Homo sapiens: one gene and its partners. The protein of the gene in region 3 purifies or fractionates together with the protein of the main gene of each other region. This does not show direct contact. Each region holds a gene or a part of one and is shown on either strand. Other genes may lie near its edges.

Evidence for each region. Proteins that work in one complex are often made in the same cells at the same time.
Region 1: the proteins of SEMG2 (region 3) and HEPHL1 purify together in Homo sapiens (affinity purification with mass spectrometry; 2 studies listed by BioGRID and IntAct, with this or other methods). This does not show direct contact.
Region 2: the proteins of SEMG2 (region 3) and LYG2 purify together in Homo sapiens (affinity purification with mass spectrometry; 2 studies listed by BioGRID and IntAct, with this or other methods). This does not show direct contact.

Annotation. Positions count from the first base shown.
Region 1 is NC_000011.10:94,107,958-94,115,704, forward strand, and holds the end of HEPHL1 (ferroxidase HEPHL1 precursor), read left to right. Parts: intron 1-2,945; coding exon 2,946-3,108; intron 3,109-3,579; coding exon 3,580-3,648; intron 3,649-3,734; coding exon 3,735-3,937; 3' UTR 3,938-6,251; downstream 6,252-7,747. UniProt on the Homo sapiens protein: Is a copper-binding glycoprotein with ferroxidase activity. It oxidizes Fe(2+) to Fe(3+) without releasing radical oxygen species. May be involved in the regulation of intracellular iron content.
Region 2 is NC_000002.12:99,240,750-99,246,062, reverse strand, and holds the end of LYG2 (lysozyme g-like protein 2 precursor), read left to right. Parts: intron 1-604; coding exon 605-801; intron 802-1,925; coding exon 1,926-2,064; intron 2,065-3,580; coding exon 3,581-3,699; 3' UTR 3,700-3,817; downstream 3,818-5,313. UniProt on the Homo sapiens protein: May act as a potent antibacterial protein that may play a role in the innate immunity.
Region 3 is NC_000020.11:45,215,167-45,224,372, forward strand, and holds the start of SEMG2 (semenogelin-2 precursor), read left to right. Parts: upstream 1-6,206; 5' UTR 6,207-6,223; coding exon 6,224-6,299; intron 6,300-6,542; coding exon 6,543-8,215; 3' UTR 8,216-8,259; intron 8,260-9,124; 3' UTR 9,125-9,206. UniProt on the Homo sapiens protein: Participates in the formation of a gel matrix (sperm coagulum) entrapping the accessory gland secretions and ejaculated spermatozoa.

The DNA.
Region 1 (7,747 bases), on a different chromosome or scaffold from region 3:
CCACCAAACTGTTTTCCAAAAAGGCAGTATCATTTTGCATTTCCAAGGAAATATACGAGAACTCCATATGTTGCACATCCACATATGCAGTTGGTATTTTTAGTTTTTATTTCATTTTTTTCCCTTAGGCATTCCCTCCTTGGGGAGGGGATATAGTGGTATCTCATTGTTTTTCATTTACATTTTCCCAGTGGCTAATGATATTGAGCATCTTTTCATGTGTTTGTTTACCATCTGTCATCTGTAAATCTTTGGTGAAGTGTCCAAATTGTAAGCCCATTTAAAAAAATTGGGTTACTTGTTTCCTTATTGTAGAGTTTGAGGGCTTTATATATTCTGGATACAAATCCTTTTTCAGTGATGTGACTCACAAATATTTGCTTCCAGTTTGTGGCTTATCTTTTCATTCTCTTAACAGCTTTCAAATAGAAGTTCTTAATTTTTGATGAAGTAAAATGAAGTACAATTTTTCTTTTTTCTCTTTTATAGATCATACTTTTGGTGTCATGTATAAAAAATTTTGGCCTTACTGAAGGTCCCAAAAAAGGTCTCTGTTTTCTTTTAGAAGTGGTATAGTTTTAGATTTAGGGCTCTGATACATTTTAATTTTCATATGTGGTTCAAGATATGAAATAAGGTTCATTTTTTTTTCATATATATGTCCAAATGTTCCATCACCACTCATTGAAAAGATCATCTTTTTTTCCCACAGAATTGACTCTTTACTTTTGTGAAAATCATATTGACCACATATATGTGGGTCTATGTCTGGGCGGTCTCTTCTGTTACACTGGTTTATACTCTGCCCTTTCTTGAATGCCACAATGTTTTGATTACTTTAGTATTATAGTAAGTCTCAAAATCAGATGGTGATTGTTTTAGCTATTCTAGATGTTTGCCTTCCCAGATAAATTTTAGAAATAATTTGTTGATTTTGATTTTTAAAATCCTGTTGGGATTTTGATTGGTATTGCACTGAAGCTATACAATGGGTTGGACAGAACTGACATAACAATATTGAGGCTTCCAATCCATGAACATGGTATATCTATCGTTTAGCTCTTCTTTGATTTCTTTCATCAGCATTTTGTAGTTTTCAATATAGAGATCTTGCATATACTTTGTTTTATTTATTTATAACTAAGTATATAAAAGGCTTTGGTAATAGTGTAAATGATAGTGTTTTTATTTTGATTTATAGTTGTTTATTGCCAATATTTAGAAATATAATTGATATTTGCATGTTGACCTTGCATCCTGCATCTTTGCTAAACTCACTTTAGTTCCAATAGTTTTCCTATAGATTTTAGGGGGATTTTCTATGCAGACAATCATGTTGTCTGTGAATAGACATGGCTTCATTTATTTTCAATCTGTATGTCTTTTATTTCTTTTGTCTTACTGCAATGGCTAGGACCTGTAGTGCAATTTTGAATATGAGTGGTGAAAGTGGACATCCTCAGTTTGTTCTTAATCTTACAAGGGGAGCATTTAGTCATTCACCTTTGAATATAAAGTTAGCTGCAGCTTTTTTGTGGATCCCATTATGAGGTTGAGGAAATTTCCTTCTAAATTTGCTCAGAGTTTTGATCATCAACAAATGTTAAATTCTATCAAATGGTTTTTCTGCATCTATTGAGATGATCAGATGCTTTTTCTTCTTTAATCTGTTGCTGAATTACATTTATTGATTGTGGAGTTTTTAAACACTTTTTCATTCCCAGGATAAACCTTACTTGGTCATGATGTATTATTCCTTTTTGTGGAATTGATTTGCTAGTATTTTGTTATGGATGATGGTATCTATGTTCATGAGGAGTATTGATTGTAGCTTTTTTTCCTCACAAAGCATTTGTTTAGTTTTGGTATCACAGTAATGCTGGCCTCATAAAATGAGTTGGAACTGTTCTTTCCTCTTCTATTTTCCAGAACAGTTTGTTTACAATTGGTATTATTTCTCCATTAAATGTTTGGTAGAATTTGCCAATAAAGCCATCTGGAGTTTAATTTGTTGGAATATCTTGAAGCAATTACAGTTTCTTTAATAGATATAGTGCTATCCAGGTTATCAATGTATTCTTGAGTAATCTTCAGGAGTTTGTGTCTTTTAAGGGATTTGTTCATACCATCTAAGTTGTACAATTTTTGGATAAGAGGTGTTTGTCCAGTATTTCCTTTTTAATATTTGTAAGATTTTAGTGATGTCCTCACTTTCATTCTCAGTATTTTTAATGTGTCCTTTTCCCTTTTCCCTTGGTTAGTCTGTCCAGAGATTTGTATTAGTTATCTATTGCTGCATAACAAATTACTCTAAACTTAGAGTAATTCTTGGATCAGGAATTTGGGATTAGTTTAACTAGTTGGTTGATTCAGAATCTTTCATGAGGAGGCAATCAAGATGTCGACTGGAGCTGCAGTTTTCAAAGGTTTGACTGGAGCTGGAGGATCCACTTCCAAACTTACTGATATGGTTGTTAACTAGAGGGTTCAGCTCCTGATCATGTGGATAAGACATGAAAACTGGCTTCCTCCAGTGAGTAATCCAAGAGAAGAGGGTGACAGAGTATCTAACACAGAAGTAATGATAACCTAATCTTGGAATTGGAATGCCAGCACTTCTTCCACATGCTATTGATTTCGCATACCAACCCTTATACAATGTAGGTAGGAACCACAAAGGTTATGAATACCAGGAGGTGGGGATCATTGTGGGCCATCATGGAAGCTGGCTACTACAGAATTTATTGATTTTATTGATCTGTTCAAAGAATCAGTTTTAGATTTCTTTGACTTATCTCTATTGTACTTCTATTCTTGATTCCTGCTCTTTCTTATGTCCTTCCTTTTGCTTACTGTGGGTTTTATTTGTTTTTGCTCTTCTTTCTGTTCTTGCTGTTCTGAGCAAAGAAGGCTACTAGCTGTTGTTTTTTAAAACGTTTTTGCAGATAGATAAATCTTACCGAGAAGATGTGTATGATCTCTTTCCTGGGACATTCCAAACCATTGAACTGTTTGCAGATCACCCAGGGACATGGCTGCTACACTGTCATGTGTCTGACCACATCCATGCTGGCATGGAGACAACCTACACGGTCCTTCGTAACATAGGTACGGTTGTCTGTCAGTGATGCCAGATGATGGCACCGAGCTTCCTGTAGACCCCCAAAACAGGAGGCATGACAAAAACCCAGATATAGCCCTCAACAAGCTCAGAGTCAAGTAAGAGAGACATATATGTAAATATGTAACTATAATCAAGTATGCTATGTGCCGTAGCAGAATGCAGAGTACAGGGCTTAATAGCAGCAGTAGGAGTGAATGGGTAACAGTTGGAGGATATGAGCCAAAGTTTCACAGAGGCCATGATGCTCCAGATAGACTCAGTGGGTGAGCAGAAGTGGGAAAGACAGCTGGGGCAGGAAAGCATGTACATGGGAATGAAGTAGCACAGTAAGAATCCAGAAATGATTGGCAGATACTGATGGGATAAGTCCTCGCTGGTGAAATGAAATGACTAGTGTCATGAAAAGAATCCCCTTCTGTTGTTAATAAAACAATGAACTTGTTTTCTTTGTGCAGACAACAGGATTCCTTACTCCACCACATCTCCTGGAGTGGCATCTCACCCAGCCACGGTGCCATCTAACGGTAATGATACCCTCTCCCCATGTAAATGAGTCAACATTTCACCCCTCAAAAATGTCAGGGGCCTGACAAGTTTATCTTTTTCACAGAACGACCTGGCAAAGAGCAGCTCTATTTCTTTGGCAAGAATCTGGGTCCAACAGGAGCCAAGGCAGCCTTGGTCATCCTTTTCATCATTGGACTCCTCCTTCTAATCACCACGGTGATTCTCTCCCTCAGACTCTGCTCTGCAATGAAGCAGACAGATTACCAGCAAGTCCAGTCCTGTGCTCTCCCCACGGATGCTCTGTGAACCATCTGGTCTCCCTCAACAGGAAAGGGTGATGTCCCACAGCTGGCCAGATGGCAGCCAACAGGGAAACTGGACCAAGGCATCACTCACCAAGGAAGGTTGACACTGTATCCTGGATCAGCCTTCTGATCCTCTCAAACATCATCCAAAGCAATTTGCTTTTATTTATTTATTTTTAAATGGGCTGCGAATAATCCTCAGGTATAAAACACAGAAAAAGGAGAATGGGCATGGCTGAGAATGTCAACTCTTAGTCTATTCTTTGGTTGGATTCACTGAATAGGAGACACTCTGAAAGATATCTTTATATTCCATCTTTTATAATTCTTGAACAGTGCTTTCTTAGCTAACCACCAAAGTTTCTAGGTGAACAGCTTCTAGAAAAAGTTAGAGTGCCTCAGACATTTAACTGGAAGGGCACTACTTTTTCAACATTGTTGCATAACATGCATCCCTTGGTTCTGTGGAAAATATCTTTCTTAGGAGTTCTTGGCAATGTCTAAGTCAGTGTCTGCTGATAGAATTAGACCAAATAAATTTTTTGGAGGCTTTAACCAGCTCTCCTGGCCTTTTCCTCTTTGATATAAATAGCCTGTGCAGTGCTTGTTTTAAAAAGCAAAGTTATACGTTTTTTAAAAAATTGCTGCTGTTTTTATTCAAACCTGTAGAAATACTTGAATGTTTACAACTCACTTCATGTTACATGTTTTTACAATATGTTTCTGTGGCAATGTTTGTACTTTCAAAAATCAAGTAGAGAAATTGTATTTCTACTGCAGACTGTGGGAGGGCTGAAATCTGTAAAAGAACATGTTAGGCTCTCCCTTTATGAATCAGGGACTCCCTGAGAGTTTAGAGCAAGCTTTCTATCAGGGAGGGAAGCTTTGCAGGAGGCAAGTCTGGGCTTGAATTTGGAGTCTGATTTTTCATTCAGTTAGAGGGAATCTTTACAAGTCCTCATCTTCTATGAAATTATAACATTCTCATTGTATGAGAAACATCAGGAGGAATTTATCAATGTAGGTGACTAGATAGGAGAAGGGACCTCTAAATATCCTAGATTCTATGGCTTTTAAAGACATACCTCTTCATGGAAGGAGAAAAAAGGAAAAGGAAAGGTGAGAAAAAGATAATCTTGGTGGCAGATTCTCTTAAACCATTAAACCAGCTTTGAAAATTAATAAATAATTTCCAAGGTTCAAATGCAAAAAAATTATTGAACAACTAAACTCAACCCATTATGAGGCAATCTACACTGTCCATACCTATGCTTAGACAGTAGGTGTAAGATTGATAAAAGTAACATTGTTTATTACAAGACTGAGAAATTGCTTTTAGCTCTGGGCGAGATGCCCTGAGATTCCAATGCCAATGCTAGATGAGTGATACTGGTATGCCTGCCTTAGCAGTGGGTAATTTGAATGTCAAAGTGAGTGACAAGGACCTAAGAAATATTCTGGTGGAGGGACCTTTCACACTGTCTCATCTTCATCTTCATGAGGGGAAATGGGTAATTGGATAGAAGCTATAGTCTTAACATAAAAGGGGATGCAAATGCTAATAGTTCTGTTCATAGTTTGCTTGAATGTCATATCAAACAGCATACACAAAAGATTTTGAATTTCAATCTGCTAACCATTGACAATGTGATTTCATAGTACATGTTCTACAGTTTTCATACATGTGTAGGCTGCATAATTTCATAATTATGGTAAATGCCTTATTTATTACCCACCTTAGTAAGACAAGTTGTTCAGTTGTTTTTTTTTCTTTTCAGTTTATTTTTTTAATGAAAACAAAACCACAAAGTAGTTTGATTGCATCATTTATCATTTTAATAAAGTGTCACATAAGGTGGCTATTTGCATGGTTATTTTCACTTAAAATTATCTATCACTGAACTAGGGGAGGTGGTTAAAGTGGAATTAATTTTTAGATATTTAGGGGCTATGACTATGCCAATGACACTTGTTAGAGGAAATGAAACAAAATAGTGTATCTCCACAAATAATATGACTTCTCAAACATTGTTTCCTCAAACATAACTACACTCCTTGTTCTCAGCCTCACTCTTGAGAAAATCAACTCTGCCTTCACTTACACACATATTTCTTCCTATTACAATACACGTGTCCCTGCTCCTAGCAGGACAGTCTCTTCATTTGACTTTGGGTCTCATTGCTTCTTGCTTTCTCAAGACTTCATTCCCTTGGGTATCCATTTTTCCTCCTGCATCTTTCTATGAAACCATCAGCAATGTCCGCCATTAAAAACAGAAAGCAATGTGCTGTCTTATTTAACTCTATAACCCCCTCCGACACAGTTTCTCTCTTCCTTTGATAGCAGAACATAGAGGTATTCACACTTGGTGCCTGTACTACCTCACCCCATGCATTCCTCAGCCCATTCTGATGGCTTTCAATCCAGCGTGCCCAGCCCCCACACCCCAATCTGCTGTGGTAGAGATCACCAATCATGATGCCATTTCCAGTGGCTTCTTCTCCATCTTTATCTTACTCAACCTCTCAGCAACAAGAAACAGCTCCTTCCTTCTGAACACTCGGAGTCTCTAGTCCCTTGGCTCTGCAACATGACTCTCTGCCAGCCTTCCTTCTTCCTCAATGACTATTCCTTCTCAATCTCTTTTTCTAGTTCCTTCTCTTCTGTCTGACCTAAATGTTAGCATGCCTCAGAACTTGACACTGGGTCCTTTTTCGCTTTTTACCCTCTGTGGTAGGCTGAATATTGCCCCAAAGATGTCATGTCCTAATCCCTGAACCTGTGAATGTCACCCTATGTGGCAAAAGGGACTTTGCAGGTATGATTAAGGATCTTGAAGATAGGAAATTTATACTGGATTATCCATAATGGCCCTATATGTAATCATGAGTGTCCTTATGAAAGAGAGGCAGTGGGAGATTTGGCTACAGAAGAAGGCAATATGACAACCAAGACAAGATGCCATGCTGCTGGCTTTGGAGATGGAGGAAAGGGCCATGGGCCAGGGAATGCAAGGAATGCATCTCCAGAAGCTGGGAAAGGTAAGGGAAAGGATTTTCCTCTAGAGCCTCCAGAGAGAGGTTGGCCTTGCAGATATCTTGAAACTGATTTTGGACTTCAGAGGTCCAGAACTGTAAGAGAAGAAATGTGTGCCAACAAGTTTGTGGTAATGTGTTACCAGCCACTCCATAGTTTATTTTATCCATCCTTATGATCGGAAAACCATTTTTATGCAAACAAATTCAAAATGTATTTCTCTAACCCTGACCTTGGGCTGCAGATTCACACAAATCCTGCTTGAGTAGGGCCACTGCAGCAGTCCCCAAACCAGCCTCTCCATCATCACTACTGCTCCTTTCCACCACTGTCCACACATTGCCTCACGTTTTTCCAAATTTCATCACTTTCCTGGTTACTACCCTTTACTGTCTTCCCATTTCACTTTTAATAACATCCAAACTCTTTACCTTGGTCTTTAAGACCCAGCTTGACTTGGCCCATGCCCACTCCTCCAACTTCTTGAACTCTGCTCCAGCTTTCATCCGCTCCTATACTCTGCTAGTTCTTTCTTGCCTCAGGGCCTTTGCACATGCTGCTTTCTATGCCTGGAATGCTCTCCCTCCCTAGCTTCCTCATTCCCTCTCTGTATTAGTCGGGGTTCTCTTAGAGGGACAGAACATATATATATATATATATATATATATATATATATATATATATATATATATATGTAAGAGGATAATAATACCGGTCTTGTGCTTTAAGATGATTAATCTGCCAGTCATGTGTAGAATAGATCATTTTATATAT
Region 2 (5,313 bases), on a different chromosome or scaffold from region 3:
GATCTCGGCTCACTACAATCTCCACCTCCCAGGTTCAAGCGATTCTCCTGCCTCAGTCTCCTGAGTAGCTGGGGTTACAGGTGCCTGCCACCAAGTCCAGCTAATTTTTGTATTTTTAGTAGAGATGGGGTTTCACCATGTTGGCCAGGCTAGTCTTGAGCTCCTGACCTCAAGTGATCTGTCCACCTCGGCCTCCCAAAGTGCTGGGATTACAGGCATGAGCAATTTGAAGGAGAAACAGAGCAGAAGCGACACCTGTTGGGGGTTGTGGATCTGTTTGTTTCTGCAGTCAGAGATCAAAAGGATGTCTTAGAATGGTTGTCCCAAGTCATTAGCAGTGATCAGAGGCTGTGGCTAACTTAGCAAATTTTTAAAAATGGTTTTCTTCTGAAGTAGAAGAAACAGTTTCTTTTCTTTTTTTAACTTTAAATTCTTTTTTTTTTTTTTTTTAATTAGAGATGGGCTCTCACTATGATGCCCAGGCTGGTTTCGAACTCCTCCTGGGTTCAAGCAATCCTCCTGTTTCAGCCTCCTGTGTAGCAGGAACTGACTTCAGGCACACACTACCATGCCCGGAAAAACAGTTTCTTTTCTATTGACGTAGGGATCCGTGGTTCTGAAATGTTTGCTGAGATGGATTTGAGGGCCATAAAACCTTACCAGACTCTGATCAAAGAAGTCGGGCAGAGACATTGCGTGGACCCTGCTGTCATCGCAGCCATCATCTCCAGGGAAAGCCATGGCGGATCTGTCCTGCAAGACGGCTGGGACCACAGGGGACTTAAATTTGGCTTGATGCAGGTATTTAGCTAGAAACTTTCTATCAGCCCCACTGCATCCCTCCTCACAGAAGCTCAACCTGAACTAGAAATCCATTTGCAGTGCTTCCAAGCCCCAAAATACCCTGGCATCTGGCTACAGGTACTCCAGCATAATTTTTTTTTTTTTTTTGAGATGGAGTTTCATTCTTGTTACCCAGGCTGGAGTGCAATGGCGTGATCTCGGCTCACTGCAACCTCCACTCCCGGGTTCAAGTGATTCTCCTCCCTCAGCCTCCTGAGTAGCTGGGATTACAGGCACACGCCACCATGCCCAGCTAATTTTTTGTATTTTTAGTAGAGACGGGATTTCACCTTGTTGGCCAGGCTGGTCTTGAACTCCTGACCTCAGGTGATCCACCCACCTCAGTCTCCCAAAGTGCTGGGATTACAAGCTTGAGCCACTGTGCCCGGCCACTCCAGCATAATTTGATCTGGGATTTCTGTAACACATCTTTTTATTTTATTCAAGGCTTATTCATTATTAGATATATTTTAAAAAGTATTTTAGGAGTTTCATAACTACCATTCTGCAATAAATAATATGTAATACACTAAAACTGAGAAAATCTTATAAATAGCATTATTGTTACAGGTGTCCTCTTGGGGTTCATGAAGTAGTAAATTTCATCCATGTGGATCAAAACATGGTATAACTGTGCCCTACTTGAAACAACTTGTTCCTTTGGGTAAACTGGAGGAAGGGGATCCAAATTATCTGGATATTTGCTTCCAGGCTCGATTTTAAATTGTCTGTAGAAATACAGACTTCTGGCCTTCCCAGTTAGAAACAAATTTTTATCTGAATTAGCTGGATAATTATTTATTACTATAAATGTGTAGACTTTGGGTGTTATTTGTTTCAAAACAACTTAAATTTTTTTTTTGTATATTAGAATGTTTAGCTAAAACTATACCATGTCCATTTCTCCCAAACCTTACTTTGTTTCTCTGACTCTCATCTATATGAAAGAAAGAACAATAGAATTGACTCTTTGGGGATAAAGGCCGGTATCTATGACTTGAATACCAGGAGAGGAAATTAGGAATGGCAGAAAAAATGTGTTACCTCATCCAGATGCTGACTTTATTATCTGAATTTTCTAGCTTGATAAACAAACGTACCACCCTGTCGGTGCCTGGGATAGCAAAGAGCACCTTTCACAGGCTACTGGGATTCTAACAGAGAGAATTAAGGCAATCCAGAAAAAATTCCCCACGTGGAGTGTTGCTCAGCACCTCAAAGGTAGGCTGTATTCTGAGTACTTTGTTTAAATGAGCAATGAATGAGACCACTGAAGGCCAGTGTGACCCGAGACTCCCTGGGAGCATTTCCACGGGGTCAGCAGTGGCCCTGGGAGGAGCTGTCTAGAGGCTGCATTTGCATTCCCTGAACCACTGAGTTACTTTGAGAGGTCCTCCATCCTCAACCTCCATTTCCTCTTCTGCAGAATGTTGGGGTTCTTATTCATTGCTTACTGAGCTATTGAGTGATACCTTGAAACATAGTGAGACCCTGTCTCTACAAAAAAAAAAAAAAAAAAAAAAAAAGCTGGGCATGGTGACACACAGTCCCAGCTACTCAGGAGGCTAAGCCAGGAGGATTGCTTGTGCCTGGGAGGTTAAGGCTGCAGTGAGCATTGATTACATCACTGCACTCCAGCCTGGGAGACAGAGTGAGACCCCATCTCTCAAAAAAAAATTTATCTATCTATCTATCTATCTATCTATCTATCTATCTATCTATCTATCTGTTTGCCTACCTCTCATAGGTTTTTTCCTGTTATAAGAAACTGTCAACAACTTTCCAAATTGTCTGAACAATGTTACTCTGTGAGTATTTTCGGGACTTCAGGTGCTATATATCCAAGTGGAAATCTCTGCTTGGCTGACCACAGGCCCCCTCAAGTTCAGCATCTCCCAGATGGAATTAACTCACTAACTTCCCACTATAAATTTGCTCTTTCTTCTGCATTTTACATGTCTTGGAGGCACCATAATATAGCCAGTCATCCCAGCCTGAAAACCAGATTGCTTTCTTAGGCTCTCTGGTTCCTTCTCTCTTCACACCCAACCACATCAATTCCTATTAGGTTTGCCTCCTATTGGCCAATGTTATGTCCTCCACACTCTAACGGCCTTAATCAGAACAGTTTCTAGTCTCTACTTCAAGGTCCTTGAAGGCAGGGATCAGGACCAGGCATCTTCCTCTCTGGATATCAGAGCAGAGCACAATTATGTTAAACACATACATAACTACTAGAGATAAAATTCTAGGGTAAAATAGCACACACATGCATATGTACACATACCCAAAGAAATAAGTGTGTCTTGGGTACCTTGCAGTCAGTGTGGCACCTCTCCTGGCACATAGTAGGTGCTTGAAAACATTTCCTGAATGAATAAATGAGTGAGTGAATAGATGAGTGAATTATTGAATAAATGAGAGAATGTTACAAGCATTTTCAGCAGAGGATGTACTGGGAGTCTAGTTCTGCCAGGCCTGGATTACATAAAAAAGCAAATCTGATTTTTGCAACAAGAAAAACCAAAGACTTTGGAAAAAGAGAAAGAAAGCAATCTGGAATTTTCCCAGTGATTCTTGGGATAGCACGTCCTTTCAGAAAGGGAGGGAGAGGGAGGAGGATTTGGGACTGCCTGCTTTGGAAGATTTGCCTGGAAAGCTAACATCTTGGCAATGCTCATTGCTTATTTCTGTTGAAAGTTAATATTTGAGCCTAATTCTCTGTGTTTCATTTCAGGTGGTCTCTCAGCTTTTAAGTCAGGAATTGAAGCGATTGCCACCCCATCGGACATAGACAATGACTTCGTCAATGATATCATTGCTCGAGCTAAGTTCTATAAAAGACAAAGCTTCTAGGCAAAGCTCTGTGGGTGGGCCAGGTTGGCAGAGTGCTCAGATGGCCGCCTTTGAGAGTTTTACGTGAATGTGTTGTATACAACACTGGCAAAGAAATGATTAAAATCATGAAAGAAAATTCATTTCCCAATTTTCTGAATGAAAATAAGCATTGAAAAAAGGAAAGAAAAATAAAAGAAATCCATCCAGTTCACAATATGGTTCCTAGGAAACGGACATAGACATATATATAATTACTTTGCAGTAAATGTGAATATCATGGCAAATGGTCCCTAGGTATTCCAGCCAGGCTTCATTTTAGCCTGTGATTCCAATGCCCACCTACTCCCTGTCTACCAGAATTGCTAACAAGTTAAGTAAGCCTTACCCGAGCCTTTGTCTTTTTTCCAGTATCTGCCCAGAGCCCTCAGGCTTTGCTTATGAGAAGTTCCTGACTCGTAAGCCAGCCAATCCATGGGACAATGGAAGAAATAGGGATGGAATTCTAGCTTCATGGGAAACTGAGAGCCAACTGAGGTGAAGCTGTCATTCAAGTTAGATACACCAAGTCCTTCAAACCCACAGCAACCTCCTGTGTTTTCTTTTGTCTGTGAAGATCCAGGGACTGGCTTTTCTTATTTTCAGCAGTTGCTGCCACACGCTTTCTTTCACGGGGTCCATCCCTCACAAAACATGGCTGAAGATAAGCATGTAGGACCCAAATCAATTATGGTTCTTTGGTTGCAAGCAAAAGTAACCACTTATAGAAATTTTAAGCATTAAAAAGAAATTACTGGAAGGCTAACAGAACAAACTAAGAAGGTCAAGGAGATGAAGAGACACCAGGCAACTCTGGGGTCTGGGTAGCAGGAATGGGTTAACCATACTTTACAGCATCCATAGTAAGCAAATGAATTAGCACCCTCACCAGTATCCTCATATATGTACTCCAAACACCTGTTTCTGATTATGTCTTCATTCTGCGTCACTTTCATAGTGCCAGGAGAGGTTCGGAGCTATTTATCTTGGGTCACATACAAACCTACCCTTTGGCTATTTTGCTACCTTGGTCTTGCTCACACTACCTACAATGGAGAAGAGACAACTCTCTGGAAGGAAACTGTGTGCTGTTTGTGGCCTTTACTTCCATAGTCAGGAGAGGACACAAGTGATAACACGTTGGAGTGTAAAGTGGACGTGTGACACTGTGGCCCTGCTGGGCCTTTAACTCCCTTTGGAGATGTTCAATGAATGTTTCAGTCCATCACTTCTGTTTCTGAGAAGGAATCAAAATCATACACACCTGCCTCTGAGCCCTCTTGGAGAAAGCCAAGTAAATCCTTCTTTGCCCACTGACCTCTCAACCCAGCCTGAATATTTGACCCAGGCAGCACCAGGAATCCTTGTTTCACTGGGCAGGGCCAATGGTCAGTTTGTGTGGCAGGCCCTTAGCAGGTAGGCCAGCAGCTTCTATGACTGGTTGAGGCCCATGCTGTACCAGGTGTTAAATATTTTTATTATCCTCCCTGCATGTGGGCCATCCAGGATGCTCTTCAGATGTTCACTTTGCTCAGGAATGATTTATTTTGGGCTTTCCCTCACATGCATGAATTTCATCTAATCACTAGCCCCTTC
Region 3 (9,206 bases):
CCCAGCTGGTCGGGAGGCGGTGGGGGGGGAGTGCTGAGGCAGGAGAATGGCGTGGACCCGGGAGGCGGAGCTTGAAGTGAGCCGAGATCGCGCCACTGCACTCCAGCCTGGGTGAAAGACAAAGACTCCGTCTCAAAAAAAAAAAAAAAAAAAAAAAGAAGAAGAAGATATACAAATGGCCAACAAACATATGAAAAAATGCTCAACATCACTAATGATCAGGGAAATGCAAATCAAAACCACAATGCAATACCACCTTACTCCTATAAGAATGGCCATATTCAAAGAATCGAAAAACCGTAGATGTTGGTGTGGATGCGGCAATCAGGGAACACTTCTACACTGCTGGTGGGAATGTAAACTAGTACAGCTGCTATGGAAAACGGTGTGGAGATTCCTTAAAGAACTAAAAGTAGAACTACCGTATGATCTAGCAATCCCACTACTGGGTAACCACCCGGAGGAAAAGAAGTCATTATTCAAAAAAGATACTTGCACATCCATGTTTATAGCAGCACAATTCACAATAGCAAAATCCTGGAACCAATCCAAATGCCTATCAATCAATGAGTAGATAAAGAAACTCTGACATATATATATATATATATATATATATATATGAGTTTTATATATATATGTTTTATATATATATCAGTGTTTCATATATATATATATAATCTTTCTTTGTCTTTGACTTTCAGCAATGCAATTAAAATGTGCCTTGGAGAGAACCTGTTTTATATATATATGTATATAGATCTCTCTCTCACCATGATGCCCATATATGTATATATGATGGAATACTACTCAGCCATAAAAAGGAATGAATTAACAGCATTTGCAATGACCTGGATGAGATTAGAGATGATTATTCCAAGTGAAGTAACTCAGGAATGGAAAGTTAAACATCATACATTCTCACTGATATGTGGGAGCTAACCTATGAGGACGCAAAGGAATAAGAATGATAAAGTGGACTTTGGGGACTTGGGGGGAAGAGTGGGAGGGGGGCGGGGGATAAAAGATAAAAGACAACAAATATGGTGCAGTGTATACTGCTCAGGTGATGGGTGCACCAGGTTCTTACAAATCTCCACTAAAGAACTTACTCATGTAACCAAATACCACCTGTACCCCAATAACTTATAGAAAAATAAAATTAAAAAAATAAAGGAACAGGGAAAACTACCTTCATTAGCAGACAATACATATGCAAAAAATTCCAAAGCATCAACTAAGAAACCATGGAACCTAATAAATGAAATCACCAATGTTGCAGAATACATGATTAAAAGATAACAATTGGTCGTATTTCTATACATTGATGATGAAAAATTCAAAATTAAAATTCAGTAAACAATTCTATTTAGAATGTCAAAAAAACCAAAATGCTTAGAAATATAAATTACCCATGACATGTAAATCTTATACACTAAAGGCTACAAAACACTTCCCCAAGAAAGTAAAGACCTAAATAAATGGATGTAGATCCTTTATTTGTGAAATGGAGGACTTAATATTGTTAAGATGGCACACTACCCAAAGTGATAATCAAATCACTGCAATTCTCTCTCTTTTTCTTTTCTTTTTTTTTTTTTTTTTTTGAGATGGAGTCTGACTCTGTCGCCCAGGCTGGAGTGCAGTGGCACGATCTCAGCTCACTGCAACCTCGGCCTCCCAGGCTCAAGCGATTCTCCTGTCTCAGCCTCCTGAGTAGCTGGGATTACAGGCGCACGCTGTCATACTTGGCTAATTTTTTGTATTTTACTAGAGACGGGGTTTCACCGTGTTGCCCAAGCTGGTCTCGAACTTCTGAGCTCAGGCAATCCACCCGTCTTGGCCTCCCAAAGTGCTAGGATTACAGCCACCGTGCCCAGCCCGAATCAATGCAATTCTTATCAAAAATTTTATGGCTTTCTTGTAGAAATGGAAAAGTGGGTTCTAACGTTCATTTGGAATTTCAAGGGATCCCAAATAGCCGTACAATCTTGACTAAGAGGAACACAGTTGGAAGACTCACACTTCACAAATACTATCTTATAACCCATTATTTAAACTGACAACAACTTAACACTGCTTCCATAAACAAACAAGAGAAAGAAAACTAATAAAGACTCTATACTTTAACTTCATTCCCGCCACTTTTTAACTGATAATTGCTGTGCTTTCTCTCACCCCATGCACAGAAATGCTCTGTGCCCCATACCTGCAACCGGGAGATGAAGGAGGAGTGGCATCAGTGATACAAGTGTTTTTCCTACCCCTTCAGCGCCTCTTTCAGTGATATAAAGTTAAAATCAGTTACTGTGAGTGCTCACCTGATTTTTTGGTTCTTATAAAGGTGATCTTTCTCTGCAGATACTTGTTAAATTGGTGACCTTGGTGGGGGCAGGGGGGATCATTGGAGCCTTCTATTCCACCATCTTGTTCTGCCACCCTCCTCTCTTAATTTTTATTCTCTCTGAACGATTTTATTTCTCCTTCATTTCTGAAGGATAGCTTTGCTGAGGGTAATGTTCTTAGCTGACAGTTTTCTCTTTTAGTAATTTGAATATATTATGCCATTCTTTCCTGGCCTGTAAGGTTTCTCCCGAGAAATTCTCTGTTAGTCAGATGGGGGTTACCTTATATGTGACTTGACATTTTTCTCTTGCTGCTTTTAAAAATCTTTCTTTGTCTTTGACTTTTAGCAATGCAATTAAAATGTGCCTTGGAGAGAACCCGTTTAGGTTGAATTTATTTAGGGTTCTTATAGCTTCCTGGACCTGGATTTCTATCTCTCTCCCAAGATGCAAGAAGTTTTCTGCTATTATTTTATGCGTCTGATGGAAAAGTTGCCTCTTCCAATTTTATGGAGTAGATTTTATAAGCGAAAACTTATTTTTATGAATGGGTCTTTAGGTGTTAGTTCATTTGAGTTTGTTGGTTTTTGTTGCAGGTGTATGTAGCAGTATTGTTTCCATAGAGTTTCTTCACCTATGATCCACACTTGTGGCACTTGAGAGTTTCTCAGCGCCCTAGTTGAGAGAGTGTGCTGCTACAGTGGCATGGCTTTGCCAGTGCTGTGGTTCCAGCGCTAATTCTCAGGTCAGGGGTGTGTGCATCCACGTGGTAGGTAATTCAATTAAGGTATGACTCAATGGTATTGGGGCCAGGGTGCTGTTATCCTGGCTGGAAGCATGGGCACATGTTTGTTCAGTCAGTGAGTGTGACTACAGGCTAGGGGTGGCCTGTGAAGCTGTTTCTTGGTTTCAGGACGTGGAAGTACAGCTTCTCAACTGGTCTGAAGACATGTCTGCCAGGGTCAGTCTACTGGGCTTTTTCTCAGGCCCAAGATGTGGGTGTAAGGCTGCTTGGATGGCCTACGAGAGGAAGGGAATGAGAGAGGAAAGAGGGCTTTTTCTCAGGCACTTGACACAGCTGCATGGCTGAGTGGCTAGGCTTTGAGCATTTCTGTAAGGGGTGGCCCAAGAAGATATTCTGTAGGCCTAGGGTGTAGGCATGGAGCTTCTTGGTTGTCCTTCATGTGTGACCACCAGAGGCAATCTGTAGGACTGTTTCTCAGACCTGGGACATGACCACATAACTACTTGGCTGGCTTGGGTATGCCCACCAGGGGTGGCCCATGGGCTGTTTCTCAGGTTTGGGAAATGGGCTCTCGGCAGCTGGGCCAGCGTGGTGTCAAGCCCAGCAGGGGAGCTTGTGAGTCTGTTTCTCAAGCTCTTATTGGGAGTATAGGGCCACTGAGCAGGCCATGGATGTGTCTCTGGAGGGAGAGAGTGTTACAGGGCTATTTCTCAGGTACTCAGTGTGGACACATAGCCACTGTGCTGCCACAGGGGCATATAAACTGTGTCAAGCTCAGTGACCTGTCTCCTACTTGGTGAACTTTAAAATATTCTACTATTTTTTCCTTGTTTATTTTTTATCATTTGATATTTTCCCAATCATGATACCACATCTAAGATGTATGCAGCACTATACCATGTTTATGCTTTCCAAATTACCGATTTCTGCTTTCATCTTTATCAATAGATTTATTTTTAATTTTGAAATGCTTTTTTTTCAAATTTCATTAAATCCAATCATGATATGAGTATCATAATCACATGTTGTGCCTAGTTTGCATTTTCCTGCTTTGTTTTTGCAAATCTTGTGCACCTTTGTTTTATCTGTATCTTTTGGACACTAGATTAGTTGGAAGTTTTGTTCTTGATCCATAAGTAAGATTAATATTTCAGACTCTTGTTTGTTCCGGTAATCTTGGAACACAACAGTTCCTGGTATTTCCTTAAGGGAAGTGTAAGGAAGATTATAGTGATTAGCAGGTACAGCAATAAATTTGTGTTCAGGAAAACTTTACTCTTTTCTTTTGGGGTCCCTGCCATAAGGAAATACTTACTGCCCTTAGGGCAAACAGATAAAACTGGTAAGATCTCAGAATGGCTCATAGAGAAACCACATAGCTCACATGCTTCAAGTTTGATGGCATAAGTAGCATTTTTTCCTATGGTTGGCCTTTCCCCTCTCCCCTTCCATATAGCATTGCTTACAGGAAGGTTAGGATTTTAAGAGAGAATAATAGAAAATAAGTTTCCAAGCCGTCCTTTCTCCAGAACTACCCTCCACAGTGTTCTGAATGCATACAGGGTCACTGTTCAAATGTTGCTGCTTCTCCTGTTGTCTTCTCATAACAAGGACTTTTTCAGTCAAAGTAAAGAAACTGGCCGGGTGCAGTGGCTCATGCCTGTAATCCCAGCAGTTTGGGAGGCTGAGGCGGGCGGATCACGAGGTCAGGAGATTGAGACCATCCTGGCTAACACGGTGAAACCCCGTCTCTACTAAAAATACAAAAAATTAGCCGGGCGTGGTGGCAGGCACCTGTAGTCCCAGCTACTTGGGAAGCTGAGGCAGGAGAATGGCATGAACCTGGGAGGCACAGCTTGCAGTGAGCCGAGATGGTGCCACTGCACTCCAGCCTGGGCGACAGAGCGAGACTCTGTCTCAAAAACAAACAAACAAAAAAAACAAAACAAACAAACAAACAAACAAAAAACCTTCCTTGGATTTTTCAAGAAGTTTTCACAATTGCAAAAAAACAAAACAAAACAACACAACACAACAAAACAAAACAAAAGCAAAAAAACCCTATGCTTCCACCCAAGGTAAAAATTTTAGCTTTAGGTCCACTCTCAATACATTATTTAATGAACTGAAGTTGGCAAATATTCCTCACAGCCTGTTGGAGGGTTCAGCAGTTTATTACAGAAGTATGAAATGCTTTTATTTAAAAAATGTATTTTGGTAAATACATTTTTGTTTAGGTAAATATCATCAAATAATCCAATTTGGAAACCAACATTCTTACTTCTTTTTCCAACAGTTGTTCCTATCATCATAAAAACATGTTAAATTTTTCTCATCCTTTCAAAAAATCTCTGGAGCTTACCTCACCCTCCAGATACAGCCTCACCTCTCATTCCACCATGAAATCAGACTTCTTGAGATGGTTTCAGCTGGACTCCATCCTTCAACTGACAACCCAACACAACTGTATTCATCTCTCGTTAACATTACTAGCAGTGAGTAACATCAGAAAGTTTTTGACACATGTTAGTCTTTTTTGTGATGAACTTCACAGATACATTTGACATTGGTATGCCTCATTTATTTGTTGAAATTTTTTTCTTTGGCTTCCATGAAGTTTCTTTCTCTTCTGTATCATTCTACTTCTATGACTGCTCCTTCTCGAGTAAAACAGAATGTGTCTCAGGATTACTTTAAAACAAGACAAAGTATAGAGTTATACCTAAAATTTAGTATTTAAGTTATTGGATCAGAAAGGAAACTCGCATTTAGAGTATGAAGGCATTGTCAGCCACCAATTACTTTTGTAACCTGAAGCTAGTCTCCTTCCTACTCCGGACTGAATTTCTTCTGTATAATGCAAGCGATCTGGCATGATGATATACAAAGACCGATAAAATTTTGCTGGGGATTCTGAAAGTAAAAAAAATTGCCTTTGATATTATGTCCCCATGCTAAGTCCCTGGGGACTTTGACATTATCCCCCACTGAGCAGGGGTGAGGAAGCTGGCATTTACTAATAAGCTATGAAAGGGCAGTGCCTTTTGACATTTCAGCTCCACCCATAGCACACCCACTCAAGGAACATATAAATGAAGAGATCCGCTCAGTTCTCAGACAAGATTTTTCAAGCAAGATGAAGTCCATCATCCTCTTTGTCCTTTCCCTGCTCCTTATCTTGGAGAAGCAAGCAGCTGTGATGGGACAAAAAGGTGAGTGGAGAGGGTAAGCCTTGGGGAAAGCTACTTTAAAAAAATGGCCTCTAAGGATATTCAGGGTGCAAACAGTAACCTGTTCAGGCACAGATTCTTCTCCTTGATGAGAATTGATTTTTCTCCACCCAACGCTGTAGGCTTTTGGAAATATCAGAAATTTGTTGGGAAAAGGTGGGAGGTAAGAGTTGCAAGAGAGCTTTGGAGATAATGAATGCATACATTTCTATTATCAATTACCAGGTGGATCAAAAGGCCAATTGCCAAGCGGATCTTCCCAATTTCCACATGGACAAAAGGGCCAGCACTATTTTGGACAAAAAGACCAACAACATACTAAATCCAAAGGCAGTTTTTCTATTCAACACACATATCATGTAGACATCAATGATCATGACTGGACCCGAAAAAGTCAGCAATATGATTTGAATGCCCTACATAAGGCGACAAAATCAAAACAACACCTAGGTGGAAGTCAACAACTGCTCAATTATAAACAAGAAGGCAGAGACCATGATAAATCAAAAGGTCATTTTCACATGATAGTTATACATCATAAAGGAGGCCAAGCTCATCATGGGACACAAAATCCTTCTCAAGATCAGGGGAATAGCCCATCTGGAAAGGGATTATCCAGTCAATGTTCAAACACAGAAAAAAGGCTATGGGTTCATGGACTAAGTAAAGAACAAGCTTCAGCCTCTGGTGCACAAAAAGGTAGAACACAAGGTGGATCCCAAAGCAGTTATGTTCTCCAAACTGAAGAACTAGTAGTTAACAAACAACAACGTGAGACTAAAAATTCTCATCAAAATAAAGGGCATTACCAAAATGTGGTTGACGTGAGAGAGGAACATTCAAGTAAACTACAAACTTCACTCCATCCTGCACATCAAGACAGACTCCAACATGGACCCAAAGACATTTTTACTACCCAAGATGAGCTCCTAGTATATAACAAGAATCAACACCAGACAAAAAATCTCAGTCAAGATCAAGAGCATGGCCGGAAGGCACATAAAATATCATACCCGTCTTCACGTACAGAAGAAAGACAACTTCACCATGGAGAAAAGAGTGTACAGAAAGATGTATCCAAAGGCAGCATTTCTATCCAAACTGAAGAGAAAATACATGGCAAGTCTCAAAACCAGGTAACAATTCATAGTCAAGATCAAGAGCATGGCCATAAGGAAAATAAAATATCATACCAATCTTCAAGTACAGAAGAAAGACATCTCAACTGTGGAGAAAAGGGCATCCAGAAAGGTGTATCCAAAGGCAGTATTTCGATCCAAACTGAAGAGCAAATACATGGCAAGTCTCAAAACCAGGTAAGAATTCCTAGTCAAGCTCAAGAGTATGGCCATAAGGAAAATAAAATATCATACCAATCTTCGAGTACAGAAGAAAGACGTCTCAACAGTGGAGAAAAGGATGTACAGAAAGGTGTATCCAAAGGCAGTATTTCTATCCAAACTGAAGAGAAAATACATGGCAAGTCTCAAAACCAGGTAACAATTCCTAGTCAAGATCAAGAGCATGGCCATAAGGAAAATAAAATGTCATACCAATCTTCAAGTACAGAAGAAAGACGACTCAACTATGGAGGAAAGAGCACGCAGAAAGATGTATCCCAAAGCAGTATTTCTTTCCAAATTGAAAAGCTAGTAGAAGGCAAGTCTCAAATCCAGACACCAAATCCTAATCAAGATCAATGGTCTGGCCAAAATGCAAAAGGAAAGTCTGGTCAATCTGCAGATAGCAAACAAGACCTACTCAGTCATGAACAAAAAGGCAGATACAAACAGGAATCCAGTGAGTCACATAATATTGTAATTACTGAGCATGAGGTTGCCCAAGATGATCATTTGACACAACAATATAATGAAGACAGAAATCCAATATCTACATAGCCCTGTTGCTTAGCAACCACTTGAAAAGCTGGACCAATAGCAAGGTAAGTTTGCTTTTCTTACCAAATAGGAGAGGTGCCTGTCCCAAAGTTGGGGACTCTCCAGGAACATGGTAGGACTGATAACCATTGTTCACATCAATAGAAGTGCTATATTACAAGTGGTGGGAAGATGAACACCATTTCCTGGCGAGTAGAGGACCTGGTAGTGGCAGGGAAGGCTGCTTGGACTATCACTGGGTCCTAGAATTCCTATTCTTAATTGAGTATTCTTCAATAATATTTTTATACATGCCTACCTGCTAAAGATTTTTTTGAACATGCACTGACTATATATGCATATTTATGAGTTTATGGTATACTCTTGTCAATTCTTATACTTTAGATTAGTAAACCTCAAATTCTTTCTCATATAGTATGAAATATTACAGCAGTTAATATTTTCTTTCTGCACATACATGAATGTTCTTGCATCCCTGTTAGAGTTCATCTATGCTCCTTCAGAGACCACAAGCCCAAAGACTAGCAGTCCACTCTCTCTGAATATAGGAAAGATATGAGTAGAAAGAAGGATTCCTGTTCAGATTGTGAAAAAGGAAGTGGAAATGGAGGTGCAGGAGATGCTGAGAGATCTCAGGTGCTAACTGGACACTTGCAATGTCAGGAGAGGAAAATTTTAACCTGGATTGGGGAAATGGTTCTTCCATGCCCCTTTGCAATAAGTAACACTGTACCTGAAGAGAGGGTAAGCAGCAGAAACAATGGTCCCAGCTGATAACTAGTGACCTGGTGTCCTAATGATCAGGGGGCTGGTGCAGTTGACGCTAAAGGGGACAGGGGTCCCAGCTCTCCCATCCTCACCCCCACTCTCCACTATCCTCACATATCTGGTTGTCTTTTTTCTCCCTAGGTGTCACCCGACCTCAGTGAAGTCTTTGATGTTTCTGAGAGGCAGACTCCCATGTGGTCCCAGATCCTTGGTCCATGGATGA